6 linked regions of the Homo sapiens genome follow. The protein of the gene in region 3 purifies or fractionates together with the protein of the main gene of each other region. This does not show direct contact. Each region holds a gene or a part of one and is shown on either strand. Other genes may lie near its edges. The genes, in order: TYMS, KLHL22, ARHGEF35, OBSL1, MON1B and KLHL13.

Region 1 (3,500 bases), on a different chromosome or scaffold from region 3:
CACGTTCCTGATGTTAGGCAACCATCACCATCACCCATCTCCATCACCATCACCATCACCATCACCATCACCATCACCATCTCCATCACCATCACCATCTCCATCACCATCACCATCACCATCTCCATCACCATCACCATCACCATCACCATCTCCATCACCATCACCATCACCATCACCATCACCATCTCCATCATCACCATCACCATCACCATCACCATCTCCATCACCATCACCATCACCATCACCATCACCATCTCCATCACCATCACCATCACCATCACCATCTCCATCACCATCACCATCTCCATCACCATCTCCATCACCATCACCATCTCCATCACCATCACCATCACCATCTCCATCACCATCCCATCACCATCACCATCTCCATCACCATCACCATCACCATCTCCATCTCCATCACCATCACCATCTCCATCACCATCACCATCACCATCTCCATCACCATCACCATCACCATCACCATCTCCATCACCATCACCATCACCATCACCATCTCCATCACCATCACCATCACCATCTCCATCTCCATCTCCATCACCATCACCATCTCCATCACCATCACCATCTCCATCTCCATCACCATCACCATCTCCATCACCATCTCCATCTCCATCACCATCACCATCTCCATCACCATCACCATCTCCATCTCCATCACCATCTCCATCTCCATCACCATCACCATCTCCATCACCATCACCATCTCCATCACCATCACCATCTCCATCACCATCTCCCGAACTTTTTCGTCATCCCTAACAAAACCTCTGTGCCCATTAAACATGAACTCCCCATTCCTCCCTGTTCCCCAGTCCCTGGAAACTAGCATTCCACTTTCTGCCTTTAAGAACTTGCCTATTCTAGGTCCACACAGCATTTTTAAACTTCCTGAAGTTGCTAACATTTAACAGATCTCATGACCGCACATAAAATATAGATTTTAGGCTTTTATTGAAGAATTCTGACATCACCAGGCCCAAATTCCTCCAGGTGGCTGGAGGTGAAATGTGACTGTCCCCTTAGATGAGACACCTGCTCTCCAGGTTGCTGGTCTCTGCCCAGCTAGTAAATTGCACACACAAACCCCACATTCCAAGGTGGCATCTGCTTTTCCTAGGGACAGGTGGGAGGGGCTGGGCTCTGTGACATCCAGTAAGAGGTGACACCAACAGTGACAGGAAAGTGGAAGTCCAGGAGTGAGATGTTTCATTCTTTCTCCACCTCTGCAGAGCTGGGAGTGGAGTGTGACCCTGGCACTGCGCTTCACAGCAGCGCCACCTACAGCACGCTGTGGCTCAGCCTCGAAAGGGAGATTAAAGCCACAACAAAGCAATGGGGGCATTTTGTCCCTTGTCCCACCGATGAACTTCCCATTCCCCAGCACGAACACCAACCATGCAGCTATCTGCCGATGACACAGTATGGAAAGTGCCAAGCGCCCAGTAAGTGCCAATCATCTGACCTACAAAGAGACTTAGACTCCCACACATTAATAATGGGAGACTTTAACACCCCACTGTCAACATTAGACAGATCAACGAGACAGAAAGTTAACAAGGATACCCAGGAATTGAACTCAGCTCTGCACTAAGCGGACCTAATAGACATCTACAGAACTCTCCACCCCAAATCAACAGAATATACATTTTTTTCAGCACCGCACCACACCTATTCCAAAATTGACCACATAGTTGGAAGTAAAGCTCTCCTCAGCAAATGTAAAAGAACAGAAATTATAACAAACTATCTCTCAGACCACAGTGCAATCAAACTAGAACTCAGAACTAAGAAACTCACTCAAAACTGCTCAACTACATGGAAACTGAACAACCTGCTCCGGAATGACTACTGGGTACATAACGAAATGAAGGCAGAAATAAAGATGTTCTTTGAAACCAACGAGAACAGAGACACAACATACCAGAATCTCTGGGACACATTCAAAGCAGTGTGTAGAGGGAAATTTATAGCACTAAATGCCCACAAGAGAAAGCAGGAAAGATCCAAAATTGACACCCTAACATCACAATTAAAAGAACTAGAAAAGCAAGAGCAAACACATTCAAAAGCTAGCAGAAGGCAAGAAATAACTAAAATCAGAGCAGAACTGAAGGAAATAGAGACACAAAAAACCCTTCAAAAAATTAATGAATCCAGGAGCTGGTTTTTTGAAAGGATCAACAAAATTTATAGACCGCTAGCAAGACTAATAAAGAAAAAGAGAAGAATCAAATAGACGCAATAAAAAATGATAAAGGGGATATCACCACCAATCCCACAGAAATACAAACTACCATCAGAGATTACTACAAACACCTCTACGCAAATAAACTAGAAAATCTAGAAGAAATGGATAAATTCCTTGACACATACACTCTCCCAAGACTAAACCAGGAAGAAGTTGAATCTCTGAATAGACCAATAACAGGAGCTGAAATTGTGGCAATAATCAATAGCTTACCAACCAAAAAGAGTCCAGGACCAGATGGATTCACAGCCGAATTCTACCAGAGGTACAAAGAGGAACTGGTACCATTCCTTCTGAAACTATTCCAATCAATAGAAAAAGAGGGAATCCTCCCTAACTCATTTTATGAAGCCAGCATCATCCTGATACCAAAGCTGGGCAGAGACACAACCAAAAAAGAGAATTTTAGACCAATATCCTTGATGAACATTGATGCAAAATTCCTCAATAAAATACTGGCAAACCGAATCCAGCAGCACATCAAAAAGCTTATCCACCATGATCATGTGGGCTTCATCCCTGGGATGCAAGGCTGGTTCAATATACACAAATCAATAAATGTAATCCAGCATATAAACAGATCCAAAGACAAAAACCACATGATTATCTCAATAGATGCAGAAAAGGCCTTTGACAAAATTCAACAACACATCATGCTAAAAACTCTCAATAAATTAGGTATTGATGGGACATATTTCAAAATAATAAGAGCTATCTATGACAAACCCACAGCCAATATCATACTGAATGGGCAAAAACTGGAAGCATTCCCTTTGAAAACTGGCACAAGACAGGGATGCCCTCTCTCACCACTCCTATTCAACATAGTGTTGGAAGTTCTGGCCAGGGCAATTAGGCAGGAGAAGGAAATAAAGGGTATTCAATTAGGAAAAGAGGAAGTCAAATTGTCCCTGTTTGCAGACGACATGATTGTATATCTAGAAAACCCCATTGTCTCAGCCCAAAATCTCCTTAAGCTGATAAGCAACTTCAGCAAAGTCTCAGGATATAAAATCAATCTGCAAAAATCACAAGCATTCTTATACACCAATAACAGACAAACAGAGAGCCAAATCATGAGTGAACTTCCACTCACAATTGCTTCAAAGAGAATAAAATACCTAGGAATCCACCTTAAAAGGGATGTGAAGGACCTCTTCAAGGAGAACTACAAACCACTGCTCAATGAAATAAAAGAGGATACAAAGAAATGGAAGACCATTCC
Region 2 (3,500 bases), on a different chromosome or scaffold from region 3:
CCATGACTTCCACACCCTCTCATCACCTGAAGACAAAGGGACCAGCTAGCACCCTGTCCTACCTCCAGCATCGGGACTCTGCTCGAAATCCTTGGACATTGTTGTCCCCTCCAATCAAGTATACGAAGTTGTTGAGCACCGCGATGCCCTGGTTGGACATGCGGGGGGCCAGGGAGGCAGTGAAGTGCTTCCACTCTCCCAGTAAGGGGTTTAGATACTTGGCCTGGTCGCTGAGGACAGTGGACGGCGTGGAGTGAATGCCCCCGAAGCCCACAACGCACTGGAAGTCCGACCGCAGCTCCGTTTGCGGGCTCTGCAGGCTGGGCTGTAGGCTCTCGTTCCGGTGGTACATGAGGGCGCTGGCCACTGTGTCCCTCAAAGGGCTGGGGTCCAGCTTGTCATGCAGCCGCTGCAGGACCTCAGCTTCCATCAGCGGAAACCGCACTGTCTCAAGGAGCTTTGGGGGCTCGTGCAGCGAGATCTGGTCAGCCTGCACCTGCTCCAGGCTATAATGGTAGAGAAGGGCCCCCTCATATACCTCGGTCTCGCAGGAGACCTCCAGGCGATTGCTGCTGAGGAGGGAGTAGACCTTCTCCAATGGAAGCTGGCGGTACTTGTCAGTCCGAGAGAAGGCCACAAAGTTTTTGAGGATATAGGTGTCCAGTTGCTCAGTCAGGCGGCTCAAGTCAAACAGCTCTGCCAGCCGGTAGACATCGAGAATGTTCTCTTCGTCCACCCAGGACATGAGGAAATCACAGCAGAAATGGATAATTTCTGGGATCTGCAGAGAGAATGACACCCATTCAAGCCTGGGCTGGTGAACAGCATCTGGGGGTGGGAGAGAGAATGATGGCAGAAATACGGGCTGTTGTGGGCCAGGCAAAGCAGAAGGGAAGTCCTCCTTAATTGTCCCCGACCTTTTCTGACACACTGGAGACTGGGGCTTACTGCAGACTAGGTTTAAGTCCTGGTTTGGAAACATACTGGGTGACAGGATATACAGCATGTTTTTTTTTGGTTTTGTTTTGCTTTTCTTTGAGACAAAGTTTCGCTCTTGTTGCCCAGAATGGAGTGCAGTGGCAGAATCTCGGCTCACTAACACCTCCCCCTCCCGGGTTGAAATGATTCTCCTGCCTCAGCCTCCCGTACAGAATGTTTTTAACCTCTCTAAGCCTCAGTCTCCTCATCTATAAAACGGGGATCATTAAAGTGAAGAGGAACATGATGAAAATGAGAGAGCACATAGGAGTGGACCCTTGATATATGTCAGTTCCCTCTTAGATCAAAAGTACTGGCTCGGCCGGGTGCGGTGGCTCATGCCTATAATCCCAGCACTTTGGGAGGACAAGGTGGGTGTATCACGAGGTCAGGAGTTTGAGACCAGCCTGACCAACATGGTGAAACACCGTCTCTACTAGAAATACAAAAATTAGCTGGGCGTGGTGGCGCGCGCCTGTAATCCCAGCTACTCAGGAGGCTGAGGCAGGAGAATCGCTGGAACCCAGGAGGCGGAGGTTGCAGTGAGCCGAGATCGCGCCATTGCACTCCAACCTGGGTGACAGAGCGAGACTCCGTCTAAAAAAAAAAAAAAAAAAAAAAAAAGAAGTACTGGCTCTCCAGAAAAGCAGGAAGCAGCACAAATGGTCACTGTGTCATATATCTGTGGTTTGGAAAGGACCTAAGACCATCCCCATCCCTACCCTAGGATTCTCTGGAAGAGCCTGCCTCTCCAAAAGCGCTGGGACCAGAAACAAACCTGGCTTTTTCCCCCGCCAGAACATCCACCCTGGTTCCCTAGAAGTGCTCAGAGCCTCTCAGACACCTAACCAATACCCACCCAGGAACCTGATTTAGAATTATTTTTCTTTTTTCTTTTTAAAATTTGAGACAGGGTCTTGCTCTGTTGCCCAGGCTGCAGTGCCATGGCAAGATCATAGCTCACCGAAGTCTCAAGCTTCTGGGCTCAAGTGATCCCTGACTCAGGGTTCTTGAGGTTCCCAGCTGGGTCAAGACCCACTTGACTCCAGTAAGTGCAGGGGCTCCCAGGTGGCCATATCAACCCTTCCCAGCCATGGGGAAGCACTAGTGGTTTGAAAGGACGGCAAGAGAGAGAATGACACTGGAGGGAGGTGGGAACAAGGCCACAACCAGCAGGCTGTTAAAGGCCACCCTGTGAACAGACAACCAAATCTTGGGAGAATAGGAGACAAAGGGAAGGGCCCTAGGGAAAACTGCCTGGGAGAACAAACCAGGTGTTGATAAATTATTTAGGAAAGCAGGATTTTAGAGTTTCAGTGGGGCCCCCCAGTGCCCACCTCCTTTCTTTCCATGTTCAGATTGAAAATGACGAGTACCTTGACCTCTCTGTGACCCAGACAGCTGCAGGTTCTCCCAGCAGGCTTGAACCCAAACCAGGCCCTTGAACATTCCCAGGCACTGATAAAGGCATCAAGGTTGTTACCCAAAACACTGAAGGAAAAACTGGTTCTGGCCCTGAGACAAATTCCTTAAACCCTCATAGAAACTCCATACACTAACCCACTCTGTGGGCAAGCCTGGGTAAAGCCTCTCTTTTCCCTTGTCTGTCTTGAGGACATGCTACATCACTCTATACATAAGTTCCCCTAATAAACGCTCTGGCCAGATCACCCTGGTGTTTGATGCTTCTTTCTTTGGAATCCCAAAACGGCTCCATTTCAGGATGCTGTGGGGTCCCCTCTTGTGGGAACCCCCTTGCTACCAACTCCAGCCATGTGTTCAATGCAATAAATCAGTTTCTCTAAAAATGGGAATACCTGGCTTATCCAGGATCATCAATAAATTAACCATTACACATGGAATAATTCTGCTGGTATTTATGTATTTATTTATTTATTATTTTGAGATGGGGTCTCACTCTGTTGCCCAGGCTGGAGTGCAGTGGCACGATCTCGGCTCACTGCAAGCTCCGCCTCCCGGGTTCACGCCATTCTCCCACCTCAGCCTCCCAAGTAGCTGGGACAACAGACGCCCGCCACCACGCCCGGCTAATTTTTTGTATTTTTAGTAGAGACGGGGTTTCATCGTGTTAGCCAGGATGGTCTCGATCTCCTGACCTCGTGATCTGCCCGCCTAGGCCTCCCAAAGTGCTGGGATTACAGGCGTGAGCCACGGCGCCCGGCCAAGGTATTTAAAGCTTATCAATAAACACTAACTATAACTTTTTTAAAATTCAAAAGACATCTAATATTGCTTGCAAGGTGACATGCTAAGAGCTGGATGAGACCTACCAAATGTCAGGCAGGTATGTGCCCTACATGAGGTATCCCCATGGTGCTTTGCTAGGCCCTGACCAGCTTCACTTGACCTTCTTTTTTCCCTTTTTGCCAGTCTTCTGCTTTGCCACTTCTTCCCAAACTACTAGGTTTTCCTAAAATTCTGGTTTGTCATGGGCCAGGGTCCTGAAGACCAAGTTTTGGGCAGAATGTGAGCACAAACAGCCCTGAAGAAGCCTGGGCAGC
Region 3 (3,998 bases):
TCACGTAAAGGCATCAGGAGAGAGTTTTTTGCAATGCTCATTACGTTAGAGTGCAAACATCCTCATCTCCTTCTCCACTGAGGGTGAATAATCACTGTTTATCTGTGTACAGGCAAAGCCAGGGCATGGGATTATGGGGATACGGCCTTGCTTCAGACCACAGACATTCTGCATCCACATAACCTCACCCACGTGTGACTTCTTGAGAGGCAAAGCTTCAAGTCATCCCTTTAACATAATGTGTGACAGAGCTCACTATCTTCCCTAGAGCCCCCCCACCAACACCTTAGCTCTTGTCTATTTCTAGTCACTAGAAACAACACTGTATTTCAAGGATACAACCCCTCCCCAATCAAACTGCCAAATCTTTGAACTGAGACTCAGTGCCATATATATATTTTTGAGGACCATGCTTCCTGGATTTTCTAGCAAGGTTGATTTCAAATATTCTGACTTACAAATCACTAAAATAATATTGAGGTTAAAATAAGATCACCACATAGATATATAACTTTATTCACTGTTTGACATCACTGCCCTCAATACTACAAAGATATCAAAACAGGGGTAGCTTTCTGGACCACTGACTACTACAATGTGTGTTCTATCCATTGCAGGAAAGTCCCACCATGCCAGTGAAAGCTGTAATACACATTTATCTATTCTCTAATGTCTGAAAATGTCACACCAACTGCCTTATAGACCAGATAGTTTATATAAGAACATTATTAGTGTCAATGCTGACTTACACTCTACAATCTCATCTGTGGTCCTGGTGGCATCCACACAGATAACATTAGTGTGAGTGACGTGTTTGTGTATTAACATAGACCTTGAGGGTGACTTTGTTCCAGTCTACCTTGCAGGCACTATAAGTGATCGGCTCCTGCTTACTCCACAGACACTGTGAGTGACCCAGCCCCTGTCTACACTAGAGCTGTTGGTCACCTGTTTGTCTACACCACTGACACTTGAGTAATGCTGCTCCCGTTGAACCCAAGACCCTACGAGTGACTCCATTCCTGTCCATACCACATAGCGACTGACCTCTCCAGACACCACAAATGACGTATTCCTGTCTATCCCACAGACACCACGTGTAACGTGGCCACGGAACCTCAGACAGACCGCGTTAAGGGCACTGATACACTCTCAGGACCTCTAATATATGAACACTCTTCTCTCTATTGAGAATCACTATATTCTGTTGATGAGAGGGATTCCTTTGCACTCCTCCTGATTTCTCTCTCCTCCCCACTAGGACCATGACATACATTCCTCCTGCATATCAGTCTCACCCAGAACTGACACGCCCTCATCCCATCTTCCCAGCTCCCCAGGACTCCTTCACTAGCCATGGCTTCACTTTTAGGCCCACAGATTGGTTAACAAATGACACCCATTTTGCTAAGGCCTATGCCAGGAACTTCTTCATGCTCCAAATGTGGATAAAACAAGACGTCTGAGACAGAGGCCACATCAAGAGCTTTTTAGCTGGAGCTGGGACCTCTGGATTAGGCCCAAGATGCAAGGCCAGACAGTGGAGTGCAGTAGGGGAGCAAGCTAGGGAGGAAGCTCGAAAGGAAAACCACCCTCTCTCATCTGTTTGACACACCCTTCTCTCTCAACCAGACAAGAGTCCTGGCCAGAGTTCACTTCTAGGTAGACAGGAGGGCAAATCTGTCTTTGGAACCCAAGATCCAGGAAGGGAAGAAAGGGACTGAGATCTGGAAATGACGTAGTATCACAACTGGCTCTCCTCCGGTAGTCTTGCCGGAAGGCAACTGCAAAAGATGCTCAGGGGTTCTAGAGCTCTGCGTCCGCATTCTAGCACCCCAACGCCTACCTCAGCCCCCAACTCTAAATAACTTCTTTCCACCTTGCTAAGAATGCAACGTTGTGATTCACATCAAGCTTTAGGAGGCTCCCCATATGTAGGGAACTGGGGTGAGGGGCAGGGCAGGATTCACTGTTCCAGGTTACGGAGCTTTGGTTAACACGGAGAGAAGCTACACATAGACTCACACAGTATGCAAATACCTATGGAGATACATAAGGAAAGGCCCCGGCCTGGTTAAGGAAAAGGAGCCGATAAAACCTCTCCAGGTAAGGAACAGCCTAGAAAGGGAATCTCAGTTATTCCTTCTGATATGGCTTAGCTTTCCCCAGGGCGCCTACTTTGAAGAAAGAGCCCTGATTATTGGCCCGGGGAACGTCTGGGGGCAGGGTGCCCATTTCCTAGGCGGGACCCGACCGGAAGCAAACTTGTAGGCAACAACATTTCCTCTAGTTCCTCTCCTCTTCCCCACCAGGGTCCTCAGCCACACACCCCGAGCCCTGCCTGCGGGCCCAGCCCCCCCATTTCCGGAGCCTGCGCCCCGGACCCAGCGGGGGCTGATCCCTGGGAAAGGCCTGGCTTCCTCTTCCTTCCTGTCCCTGCCCCACCTCCGCCGGGCTCCACAGCCGCCGGGAGCCCAGGGCCGAGACGGGAGGAGGGCACCCACCTGGTCGGTGTCACATGCTGCTTCGGCCCCAGCGTCCCCTCCAGGTCCCGGCGCCGGCCGCAGTCCCCAGAGCCGTCCCCAGCGCAGGCCCGGCCGCCCCACCCGCGGCCCGCCCCTGGCCGCCCGACGGGAGGGAGGGATCGGGTTCTCCTAGGAAGTTTCAGGTGAGGAAACAGGGACACACCTTCCCGGAGGAGGGGCAGGGCCCCTCCGCGCGCGAGCCCCATTGGTGTGAAAGAAGCTCCCGCGTCAGAGCTGGGAAGTGCCGGGCCGGCGGAGAGGGGAGCCCGGGCGCACGGGCCAGGCCGCGGGCTGTCCCAGGGAGCCCCGAGGGCGCGGTGCGCGGGCGCAGGTCGGGCGCAGGCGGGGTGACCCGGGGAAGGGGCGCGCACAGAGACAGAGGGAGCCAGCCGGGCCCCACGGTGTCCTCGGACGCCTCCGAAATCTCCCTGCGTGTTTGTTTCTTCGGAGCTTCACCGGAGCCTGACTCTGGAACCGGCCTGTCTGCCTGCTGCAGTCTGTATGTGTTTGTCTTTTGCCTTGGCCGTGCCTCTGGAAGTCTGACATCCGTGGTTGTACATGTGTCTTTATCTTCAGGCCTCATTGGTTTTTGGTTTGTTCGTTGTTGTTGTTGTTGTTGTTTTTTCTGAGACGGAGTCTCGCCCTGTTGCCCAGGCTGGAGTGCAATGGCGCGATCTCGGCTCACTGCAACCTCCGTCTCCGGGTTCAAGAGATTCTCCTGCCTCAGCCTCCCGAGTAGCTGGGATTACAGGTCCGCGCCACCATGCCCGGCTAATTTTTGTATTTTTTAGTAGAGGCCGGGTTTCGCCATGTTGGCCAGGCTGGTCTGGAAACTCCTGACCTCAGGTGATGCACCCGCCTCGGCCTCCCAAAGTGCTGGGATTACAGGCGTGAGCCACCGCGCCCGGCCAAGGCCTCAGTGTTGATTTCTCTTCCGTGATGTCTCCTCCTATAGAATAAAGAGTGTCTCCTCCATCTCCTCCTCCGCCCCCTTCTTCGTTTCTCTCTCTCTCTCCCTCCCTCCTCCCCCCTCCCTGTCCCTCTCCCTGCCTCTTCCTCTCCCCTCTTCCTTCTCCTACTTAGGGCCTAGAAGTGTGCCTCTCTGAAAGGACATGCCCGTGTCCTTCTGTATTCCCGAGTTTATTTTAGAATGAGTGCGTATCTCAGGGTGTATGTTCCTTCTAGGGCCTGTGTGTGTGTGTGTGTGTGTGTGTGTGTGTGTGTGTATTTAAATCTCTAAGCCCATGTTTGTGTGTTTTCTTATGCCTGTATTTTTTTTTTATTCTTTCAGGGAAACGTTTTGTTCTGTTAGTCTTGGAGGCCAAGGCTGAGTGGGTTTATCTCTGTGCCCCTCCAGTGACTTCAAAGAATGCCAAAAGTCTCTCGAGTGTGCCTGTGTGCACACACAGACACACACAAAGTAGGAATCCTTTACCTGGGGGACAGAGATTTCTGTTATTTTTGGTTGAATCT
Region 4 (3,500 bases), on a different chromosome or scaffold from region 3:
GTGCTGAGCTGTGAACTGTCCCGGGCTGGCGCCCCCGTGGTCTGGAGCCACAATGGGAGGCCCGTGCAGGAGGGCGAGGGCCTAGAGCTCCATGCCGAGGGCCCCCGCCGAGTCCTCTGCATCCAGGCTGCAGGCCCAGCCCATGCAGGGCTCTACACCTGCCAGTCTGGAGCAGCCCCCGGAGCCCCAAGCCTCAGCTTCACCGTCCAGGTGGCTGGTGAGTACAGCCTGGGCATTAAGCCTGAGAGTGGCACCAAGCCTGAGAGTGGCACCCCAAACTCTGCGGGATTCCTGCTTTTCCAGCATGCCTTGCCCATCCCTGGCCCCACTTCTCTCAGTACCTTCCCCGTCATGCCTCCCCGTGCCCTCCTCAAAGCCCTGAGCCTCTCCCTCCCAGTGACCTCCAGCTCTGACTCCACAGAGCCCCCTGTGCGGGTGGTAGCTCCCGAGGCAGCCCAGACGAGGGTTCGGAGCACCCCAGGCGGGGACCTAGAGCTGGTGGTGCACCTCTCCGGGCCAGGGGGCCCTGTACGCTGGTACAAGGACGGGGAGCGACTGGCAAGCCAGGGGCGGGTGCAGCTGGAGCAGGCCGGGGCCAGGCAGGTGCTGCGGGTGCAGGGGGCACGGAGCGGGGACGCTGGGGAGTACCTGTGCGATGCGCCCCAGGACAGCCGCATCTTCCTTGTCAGCGTGGAAGGTAACAGTGTACCCCTCACACCCTGTGGGCTGTGGCACCCCAAGGACCATCTGCCACTTTCTAGGGCCCCCTTACTCCTCCACCCCCGCTTTGCTGCTTCTGGCTCCAACCAGTGCGTGCATGACCATCACTTGGATAGGGGCTCAGGGCTCCTCTTTCCAGAAACCCTCATGTTGAGAGCAGCATAAACCAGTGGTTAAAAGCAGGGGCTCTAGAGTCCACCCAGCCAGGTTCCAGCCTAGATTCTGTGCCCCAGTAGCTGTGTGACATTGGCCAAGTTGTTCAACCTGTCTGAGCCCCGGCTCTGAAAAGAGGGGATAGTGCTTTTCTTATAGGCCTGTTGTGACAAGTAAATGCTGTAAATAGGGTCCCTGGTAATTGATATTATTAGGGTGCCACCAAGGTGGGGTGCTAGGCTAGGATTATGAGGAACTGACTAAAAGGAGTGGCAGGGAGCTGGCATCTTGTCCTTTGGGCCATCGGTGTGGTCGATACATAGTAGGTCCTCACAGAAGGTCTGTTAAATGACTGGGGACGAGGGCCTGCATCCTGAGGAGGGGATGAAAAGGAGAGAGAAGAAAAGACTCAGCCCAGCTCACTGCCTTACCGTGCCCCTTAGAGCCACTGCTGGTGAAGCTGGTCTCGGAGCTGACACCACTCACTGTCCACGAGGGCGATGATGCCACGTTCCGGTGTGAAGTCTCCCCACCAGATGCCGATGTCACCTGGCTGCGCAATGGGGCCGTCGTCACTCCAGGGCCCCAGGTGGAGATGGCCCAGAATGGTTCAAGCCGCATCTTAACCTTGCGAGGCTGCCAACTGGGGGATGCAGGGACCGTGACTTTGCGGGCAGGGAGCACGGCCACAAGTGCCCGGCTCCATGTTCGAGGTTAGGTCCTGATGAGGATGAGATACTCTGTGTCCCGTGCCTGTACTCCCAACCAGGATTCCAGCAGCCTTGCCTCTCCACCTAGGGACAGACCAGTGGGATGGAGCAAGGGGCCAGCCTCCAACCCCACCAGACTCCATGGCCTCCTTCTTCCCCACCAGAGACAGAGCTGCTGTTCCTACGGCGGTTGCAGGATGTGCGGGCAGAGGAAGGCCAGGATGTGTGTCTCGAAGTGGAGACAGGCCGAGTGGGTGCAGCGGGGGCCGTGCGCTGGGTGCGAGGTGGGCAGCCCCTGCCCCACGACTCTCGCCTGTCCATGGCCCAGGATGGGCACATCCACCGCCTCTTCATCCATGGTGTCATACTGGCCGACCAGGGCACCTACGGCTGCGAGAGCCACCACGATCGCACCCTGGCCAGGCTCAGCGTGAGGCGTGAGTGCCCCGTCCTCTCTTAATGCATTACCCACCCTACACCACAGCCTTTTCTGGCTGTCCTGGAGTCCCTCAGGCCCCCACCAAAGTGCCCCTCATCGCTGAGAAAAGTCACCCATGGCCGTCCCAGCAGCAGCTTGCCCAAAGCAAAACTTTTCTTTTTCTAATATTTTTTATTTACCTTAGAAGTCCATGTGGATTTTGCATTCCATTGCATATTTCCAAGTCGGCTTTGCTATAAACACAAATATTCTCCAGAAAGACTTGCCATGGGCATCCTTCAGGCATGTATTCTAGGGATACACATACCCACTTAAGTAGCAGGGATGGCTGTCAAACAGCACCCCACACCTCCCACCCAAAGCTGGAGCCCTCTGTTTCCTATGTGACCTCATGCAAGTTAACCTCTTTGAGCCAAGTCTCCTTAAAAATGGGGCTGAGACCAGGTGCAGTGGCTCACGCCTATAATCCTAACACTTTGGGAGGCCAAGGCAGGAGGATCCCTTGAGGCCAGGAGTTCGAGGCCATCCTGGGCAACATAGCAAGAACCCATCTCCACAAAAAAAAATAAAAATTAGCCGGGCATGGTAGTTACTAGGGAGGCTGAGGCAGAAGGATTGCTTGAACCCAGGAGGTTGAGGCTATAGTGAGCTATGATCATGTCACGGCATTCCAGCCTGGGTGACAGCAAGACCCTGTCTCAAATTTTAAAAATGGGGTTGATCCCCGTCTCAAGTGTCTCTGGGAACATTAACTGAGATAACATGAAAATTCTTACACAGAGCTTGGTGAATGGTTGTCATTTGTGACACATCTCTTCTAACTTATTTCATTCAAGAAATCATCACAATAAACCTGTGTCCCAATGTTATTCACCTTGTACAGCTGGGGCAACTGGGGTCCAGAGAGGTCAGGCCATTTGCCAAAGATCACATAGCACACAAACTATGTGGTAGAGCGAGGTTCCATTCCTAGTGTGTCTGACTCCAAATTCCGTGCTCCTTCAAGTGTCACAGCACCCCTCACCCAGACTCCACGACCCCCTAACCACACTTCTCCCCCTTCCTGTGCCCTCATCTCCTAACCCTGATACAGCCCTCCCCCCGCCAAATCTGTCCACCGTGCTCCTTTCTTCCTGCACCCTGGTTCCGAACTTTTTTGGTCAGGACCTTAGGTTGGGTGTTCAGGGGTGTAGGCAGGGCCAAGGGATGAGGATTGACTGCAACCCCTGCCCAGAGCTGGAGGCCTCATCCTCCCTCTCTCCATCTCCCCCGGCCAGCGAGGCAGCTGAGGGTGCTGCGGCCTCTGGAGGACGTGACCATCAGTGAGGGGGGCAGTGCCACCTTCCAGCTGGAGCTGTCCCAGGAAGGTGTGACCGGGGAGTGGGCCCGGGGTGGAGTACAGCTGTATCCAGGACCCAAGTGTCACATCCACTCGGACGGCCACCGTCACCGACTGGTACTCAATGGCCTGGGCCTGG
Region 5 (3,500 bases), on a different chromosome or scaffold from region 3:
TGAAGTTATTTCATTGGTCACACATTAAAAAATTACTGAGCACTTACTTTACACCAAGCAGGCATTGTTTTAGGTGCAGGGGAGCGAGAGGTAAACAGTCTCTGTTCTCATGGAGCTCACATCCTAGGTCAGGCAATAAGCAATAATCATTACTTTGATGTCTGTATGGGTAGGTCTGGCAGGATGCAGTCTAATGTGTTTGTTAATACAGTGGTTTAAAGAGTGTGCAGAAAGGGGTGTTCGAGATAGATAAAAGTGGGGCAGAAAGGTGACAACAGTTAAAGCATACTGATAGGTACACATGGGCTTTGTTTAAAGCTATTTTCTCTACGTTGGTACACTTTGAATATTTCTATAACAAAAAAATGCTAGTGGCATACAAATGCATGACTGCCTTGGGAGATTTTTTTCTTTTTGTTTTTTCTTTTTTTTTTTTTTTTTTTGCTCACTCTGTCTTCCGCGCTGGAGTGCAGTGGCGCAATGTCAGCTCACGATAACCTCTGCCTCCCGGGTTCAAGCAATTCCCCTGCCTCAGCCTCCCCAGTAGCTGGGACTACAGGCGCCCGCCACCACACCCGGACAATTTTTGTATTTTTAGTAGAGACGAGGTTTCGCCATGCTGGCCAGGCTGGTCTCAAACTCCTGACCTCAGGTGACCCACCCGCCTCGGCCTTCCAAAGTGCTGGGATTACAGGCATAAGCCACCAAGCCCGGCCAAGGGAGAATTTTTTTTCTTTTGAGACGGAGTCTCACTCTGTCACCCAGGCTGGAGTGCAGTGACATGATCTCGGCTCACTGCAACCTCCGCCTCTCGGGTTCAAGTGATTCTCCTGCCTCAGCTTCCTGAGTAGCTGCGATTACAGGCCCACACCACCGCGCCCGGCTGATTAGTGTGTGTATATATATATATATATACACATATATATATATATACACATATACATATATATATATATACACACACATACATACATACATATAAATACACATACACACATATGTATATGTATATATAGTTTTTTAGTAGAGATGGTGTTTCACCATGTTGGTCAGGCTGGCCTCGAACTCCTAACCTCGTGATCCGCCCGCCTCGGCCTCCCAAAGTGCTGGGATTACAGGCGTGAGCCTCCGTGCCCGGCCTGAGATTTTTTTTTCTTTTGGATGGAATACAATTTCCAATAGTGTCTAGGCCGACACCCCTCCACCCTCCTTTGCCTGTCATTCAAGTCAATACCCTGGAGAAAAGAGGCTGTGGGGGAGGCCATGTTCGATTAGGAGGTTTAAGAGTCCATCAAAGTGTCATATGTGTTAGGTGTGAAATGGCGACACTGGGAATTACTGTTAATAAGGGGTGGCTGCAGCACGGTGATTGTTATGAGAACATCCCCACCGCCCCACTTTTGTTTGAAGACTTTCGTACTGAACTACATGTTGTTTACTTTCAACAACGTATACACTACAGTTGACAAAAGTTAATCTCGGTGATAAGAATATGCCTGTTAATTTATCTCCACTGTGCTGAACGGTTAAAAAATTGTTTTTCTTCAATAACAAAAGGCTTAACATTTTATTTAAAAAAATTAGAATATCATTATTTCATTATTGTAATGGGACGAATCCTCCCTCCTTTCTGCCCTGGTTGGAGAGAAAGGAGTGCAGCCCACTTGCCCTCACTACCTTCAGCCTCCTCAGTAGCTTCTGGCGCCTCCACATTCAGAGGTTTCAGCTTCCCCGCCATTTTCCAACGCGGGGCCTGCGCGCGAGCCTCGCTTGATGACTGGTTAAAAAAGAAACCACGTGAGGGTGAAAGGCTTTTCAGCACGCATGCGTGCAACCCGCGGTTACGCCAGCGGTTAAATCAGGAGTCAGCTCTGGGCAGGCGCAGAACACACTGCGGCCCTGATTGCCAGCACACATGCTACAACCTTGAGGCTGTAACTCCACAAACAAGGGCAGAACTAGGGTAATGGCCAGTTGGGGAGTGAGGGTAGTGTGCACACACACAAAACCCTAGGGAGGTCTCTCCTGCTTTAGGCTGCTTGTCTTGTGCAGGTTGTCAAAGTCTGGGACAGACGTGCATGTGCTATGTGGTGGTACACAATAGTTCGAGTCTGTTTTCGTTTACAAATCCTCATCAAAGAGTTCATGAGAGAGGGTTACTTATCTCTGTTTCACAGATGAGTAAAACGAGGCTTAGAGGCTAAGTGCATCTCCTATGTAAAAATGCTGGATTTCAGCCACTGTGTGCAGTCAGGTGCTGTGTCCTGGGTTCCACAGGTGGACACTGAAGGCCACCTTCTCATTAATGTTAGCAGCAGCCAGCATTGAGGGCGGGTCATTTCTGGCAGGGTAAAGATGAAAAAAGTACAAGAAGGGCAAAGGAATATCCTTGTGGGTCTTACTTTTAGGCCTTTTATGTAGTTTTTTTCTTTAAAATACCCTCAGGCCAGTCCCAAGCATAGCCTGGCCCTGAAGTGCCAATTCCAGCACCCCCGTGGGCCACCCTAGACACCTTGGCCAGATCTGGACACTCAGGGCTGAGATTCAACTAGGAGGCAGACCACGGAAGCAAGTTTGGAGGGGACAGTCCCTGACAGAGGCTAGAGCATCATCCAAGTGGAGGAGATGAGACAGAGGGAAGGGAGAGGGAGGCCTAAGGATTTCCCCAGAGGGGGAGGTGCATGACTGGGCAGGGAAAGCAGCCTGCTCGCCTGGCGGCTGCCACCATCTCTCTCATCGGTGGGCCCTCAGACCTTGCCCCATTGCTTAGGGAGACAATGACTGGCCACAGACACACCCCCACACACATTTCCAGGGTAGACAGAAGGTAAAAAACAAAGGTGGTTGCTCCCAGCACTGCCTGGTCTGGGAGCTCCAACTATCAGAGTCCAGTGAACAAGCCATTATGGGCAGCTTGGTCCGTAGAGGTGGCTGGTGGTGTGGAGTACTTGGGTGGGTAACGAATGAAGAGCCGGTCCTCCTCTTTCTTCACCCAGCGCAGGAGTTTGGTCACTACCAAGATTGCACCTGCCTTGGTCACCAGAGGGCTGAGGCAGGTATAGAGCTCGAATTTGGAGGTCACCTGGGGGTTTCGGAGGAGACAGAGTCAGATGGGCCAGAGCTGGCTATGGACAATCCTGCCTACCCCAGTGCAGCTGCATGTCTGCCTCCTGCAACCTGGAACATGTACCTGGCAGCACCTCCTACCAGGTGCTGCCTAGATACTGGGCTAAGGTAGGTAAGCTGATATTGTGCAATTTCAGCTGGACCTAGTGACTTCAACTGGATGATGCTGGTTGTGTGTGTGGGTACTCTCTAGACCTGTTTGCTCATTGGGAACTGGGGAAAACAGTAACAATGTTTAATATTCTGTCAGTAACCTATTGTGTACAAGGTCCTGCTCTAAGCTCCTACAACTATGTTTTCATCATCTACAGCCAGGGAATAATATAAAGAGGAACTCAATTTATGCCTCATACCACATGGAGAGGCCTGACCCC
Region 6 (3,500 bases), on a different chromosome or scaffold from region 3:
TTTCCTTAATTTGGCTCAGGATGACCATGTGTTGCTAAGATCAGTGTAAAGCAATGTTAAGAGTCTATAAGTACAAGCTTTAAGTGTTACTACTAAATTAAATTCTGGACTTGAGGCATTTTGAAAATCACATTCAATATGATTCATTTTTCCTTGAAATGAAGTTGTTATATCATGCCAGTGACACAACCAGAGGTGAGATCCTAATAGCTCTTGAGGGAATGGGCCTTGCATGATCAAATTTAAATAAAATTTAGCACCTAAATTCAGTAATGGAGGCAAGCAATAGCATGGGAATTAACCAACTTCACTTGGGCTACTTTCGCAATAAAGAAGACAATACAAGTCAACAATATAGCACCATGCTGCCATAAAAACCCTTAAAAGTAGCAATTAGTTCAAATTTTATAAGTAATTGTGAGACAGCAGTCTGAGTTTTCTAAAATCAAACATACAAAAAACACACTTTCAATAGGCCAGTTAAATTAGTTATTGGCTGACTTTTAAGATAGTTAAGTACCTTAATAATAAAATAATTAAGGACATGGCTCTCTTGAAACTTAGTGTTTTAAAGAAGGTTCCATGTTCAAAAAATGTAAGTTGTAAAGATCTAACAGCAATTATTTACCTATATTAAGATTCATATGAGTTAAAAAATTATAGAAAACATATCCATCAACATAATGAGTTAGAAAATATACCAAAAATTAATATTGCCAGAATTCTTAATCAGAAAAACAAGCTCCAAGACCTCTGGAAGTCTTGGCAATATTTCTGTCCAATGTAGCCATTTATCTCCCCAGAAGTAAAATTTAAAGGTCTCAACTAAAATAAAACACTCTCTTCAGGAACTGGGTGACTATCATTAAGTACTCCATCGATTGGTAGTTGTATGTGTCCTATCTTATCTATTAAAAAATGGCTAAACACTATTCAGTAGGTGATATGTTTCTATGGAATCAAGACTTACATTCTTACAGGTTTGCCCATAGGTATTAGTTCTTCTTAAGATCTAGCTCCCTTATTAAAAGAAGAAATTTTAAAGAGTTCTAGAAGCTCAGATTACTTTTCCATTCAATTACATTTAAGAAGCCTGCTTGTATAGTCATTAAGGTGAATAAAACCAGATTATGGTACATACCATTATCAAACAGTTAAAGTATATATCTTCATCAAACATTATTAGTATCTCATGTCATTTGATTACACAGAGGCTTTTTTTTTCTTCCTGAGATGGAGTCTCACTCTTGTTGCCCAGGCTGGAGTGCAATGGCGTGATCTCAGTTCGCCACAACCTCCACCTCCCAGGTTCAAGCGATTCTCCTGCCTCAGCCTCCCAAGTAGCTGGAATTACAGGCATGCACCACCATGCACAGCTAATTTTTGTATTTTTAGTAGAGACGGGCTTTCTCCATGTTGGTCAGGCTGGTCTTGAACTCCCAACCTTAGACGATCTGCCCGCCTCGGCCTCCCAAAGTGCTGGGATTACAGGCGTGAGCCACGATGCCCGGCCAACACAGAGGCTTTTATTAAATGATTCTATTTCATAAAAATGCACCTGTTTCAATCTCACCTTGCTTACAGACCACATACAACAAGACACATCTGTCTAATGGCAAGTTTCACATTCCTGCACAGCAGATTTCATGAGTCCTAAACAGGCTACATCAGAGTCTACCACAGGAAAAATCAGATTTCAAAATATCTTACCCCAGATATGAGAAACACTTTACAGAAGTCCAAAACTGGCAGAATCTGTAGGAAACTGGCAGCTTCCAGCGTGTCTTGAAGGTTGTCCATATTAAGAGAAAGCTTTGCAGTATAAATGAAATCAATAATTTTCCTTAGACCGACTTTGCTCACACCATGAAGTTTAATGCACATTAAATCTTGTTCTTTCATTCCACCTTAAATAAAAAGACATTCAATTAAATGAAGGTGGATAATTATGGTCAAACTCACTTCTGCTGCTAATTAGATGCAATAAAATCAAAGGAAAGTCTTATCTTATATAAGCAGTCATATTAGAGTCAGTCTGCTGCACATTTTACTGTTAAAAGAAAGTACTTAAAAAAGATAATCTCTATACTAATGGAGGTCATATATGATGCAAGTGCTTCCAAAATGTTCTCACTTCCTATTTTTTGACATAGAGTAGAGATTGTACTAGGAGGACACAGAGTCTCTGATGGCCCACTAGATATAAGCTTGAAAAAGAAAAGCTGTGAGATAAAGATGGACAGTATGAAAAAAGTGCATCAATTTTCCATGTTAAAACAGCACCACCGAAAACCATACATACTGTTGTGTACTTCTTTTGAAGCTGTTTCCAAAAGAACCAAATTTCATGTTAGAAATAAAAAAGATTTAAACACGGATTTTTCATATTGTTTTAATGTGGTTTCAGAGTTTTAAAAGGCAAACTACCTGTGAACATAGCCTTGAAGTAATCACTAGCAGATGCCATCATGACTCTATGCACAGGGAAAGCATCATCTGTGTCACCTGGCATCAGGGTCACATCACAAAGCAATCCTTCAAGTCGAAGCTGGTCAAAGCCCTACAACAAGAACATGAGTTGAGTCACTAATCAAGGTAAAATGAGGTTACAAATCTTCGTGTGCTAAAATTGTTTGAATATTAATGTGGTGCAACATATGTGGAACATAAAGCCAACAGAATATTCGGGAGAAGAAAAAATAACTGCACAACTTTCCTGATATGTGACAATGCATGTTTTCTTTCACTGTAGGAATAACACAAAATTAAGACTAATTTAGGTTAAAAACGATTAAGGAAAAAGTATATACTTTTGCTTATTTACACAATTATCAGCTTTTACCTTATTTTGAAAAATAATTACAATGTGCACTTCTACTTTCCCATCTGCAGAATGAGAGTATTAGACTGTCTTAACATTCCTTTTCGCGATAATTTAATAGTCCTTTTATAGTGCTTGACTGAAGCATCTTGGTTTTGTTTTGTTTTGGGGGAGGTTGAGAAAGAAAAGTAGAGAGCAACTGTATTAAGTACACGATAGTTCTTTCTACTAATTGTATTACTTCATCTCTTTGAGAAGCCTATACTCAGTACATTGCTGCTGCCTGGCCAAATATCTTTCAAGTTTCAAGTTTGAGACTTAATTATCTTTGTTTGAAAAAAAACAAAAAAAAGCCCAGGAAACCCCAACATGAGACTTAATTGTCTCCAAATGCCTAAAGGTTTAGTGGAGAATTAACAGGCTAGCAGCCACAATTCAGAGGAGTGACAGAGCTCTGGTGAGAAGAATCCTTGTTGATTAGCTTTTTCACTACACCCTGATGGTCTCAACTAACGACAAATAGACAGTTGTTCTATTGATATAAGTTGGAAGAATGACAATCACTTTTAAGATTATAACAGGTTGAATCTACAACATACACATATTTCAAAACATCATGTTTTTCAATTTTTATCTTTTATTTTTAATTTTTGTGGGTACAGAGATGTATGCTTTAGGG

What was found.
Region 1: the proteins of ARHGEF35 (region 3) and TYMS purify together in Homo sapiens (affinity purification with mass spectrometry; one large-scale study listed by BioGRID and IntAct). This does not show direct contact.
Region 2: the proteins of ARHGEF35 (region 3) and KLHL22 purify together in Homo sapiens (co-immunoprecipitation; one large-scale study listed by IntAct). This does not show direct contact.
Region 4: the proteins of ARHGEF35 (region 3) and OBSL1 purify together in Homo sapiens (co-immunoprecipitation; 3 studies listed by BioGRID and IntAct, with this or other methods). This does not show direct contact.
Region 5: the proteins of ARHGEF35 (region 3) and MON1B purify together in Homo sapiens (co-immunoprecipitation; one large-scale study listed by IntAct). This does not show direct contact.
Region 6: the proteins of ARHGEF35 (region 3) and KLHL13 purify together in Homo sapiens (co-immunoprecipitation; one large-scale study listed by IntAct). This does not show direct contact.

Annotation. Positions count from the first base shown.
Region 1 is NC_000018.10:664,153-667,652, reverse strand, and holds part of TYMS (thymidylate synthase), read right to left. Parts: coding exon of another isoform or gene 2,377-3,500; exon of another isoform or gene 1,257-2,376; intron 817-1,256; exon of another isoform or gene 1-816. Other genes in the region: ENOSF1 (mitochondrial enolase superfamily member 1), read left to right, coding at 2,377-3,500. UniProt on the Homo sapiens protein: Catalyzes the reductive methylation of 2'-deoxyuridine 5'-monophosphate (dUMP) to thymidine 5'-monophosphate (dTMP), using the cosubstrate, 5,10- methylenetetrahydrofolate (CH2H4folate) as a 1-carbon donor and reductant and contributes to the de novo mitochondrial thymidylate biosynthesis pathway.
Region 2 is NC_000022.11:20,464,796-20,468,295, forward strand, and holds part of KLHL22 (kelch-like protein 22), read right to left. Parts: intron 782-3,500; coding exon 63-781; intron 1-62. UniProt on the Homo sapiens protein: Substrate-specific adapter of a BCR (BTB-CUL3-RBX1) E3 ubiquitin ligase complex required for chromosome alignment and localization of PLK1 at kinetochores.
Region 3 is NC_000007.14:144,193,034-144,197,031, forward strand, and holds the start of ARHGEF35 (rho guanine nucleotide exchange factor 35), read right to left. Parts: upstream 2,801-3,998; 5' UTR 2,505-2,800; exon of another isoform or gene 2,288-2,504; intron 1-2,287.
Region 4 is NC_000002.12:219,554,540-219,558,039, reverse strand, and holds part of OBSL1 (obscurin-like protein 1 isoform 1 precursor), read left to right. Parts: coding exon 1-217; intron 218-421; coding exon 422-697; intron 698-1,316; coding exon 1,317-1,586; intron 1,587-1,747; coding exon 1,748-2,020; coding exon of another isoform or gene 2,021-2,043; exon of another isoform or gene 2,044-2,891; intron 2,892-3,299; coding exon 3,300-3,500. UniProt on the Homo sapiens protein: Core component of the 3M complex, a complex required to regulate microtubule dynamics and genome integrity. It is unclear how the 3M complex regulates microtubules, it could act by controlling the level of a microtubule stabilizer.
Region 5 is NC_000016.10:77,197,690-77,201,189, reverse strand, and holds part of MON1B (vacuolar fusion protein MON1 homolog B), read right to left. Parts: intron 3,083-3,500; coding exon 2,882-3,082; 3' UTR 1,739-2,881; coding exon of another isoform or gene 1,678-1,738; 3' UTR 1-1,677. Other genes in the region: SYCE1L (synaptonemal complex central element protein 1-like), read right to left, coding at 1,678-1,738.
Region 6 is NC_000023.11:117,917,811-117,921,310, forward strand, and holds part of KLHL13 (kelch-like protein 13), read right to left. Parts: intron 2,561-3,500; coding exon 2,428-2,560; intron 1,908-2,427; coding exon 1,711-1,907; intron 1-1,710. UniProt on the Homo sapiens protein: Substrate-specific adapter of a BCR (BTB-CUL3-RBX1) E3 ubiquitin-protein ligase complex required for mitotic progression and cytokinesis.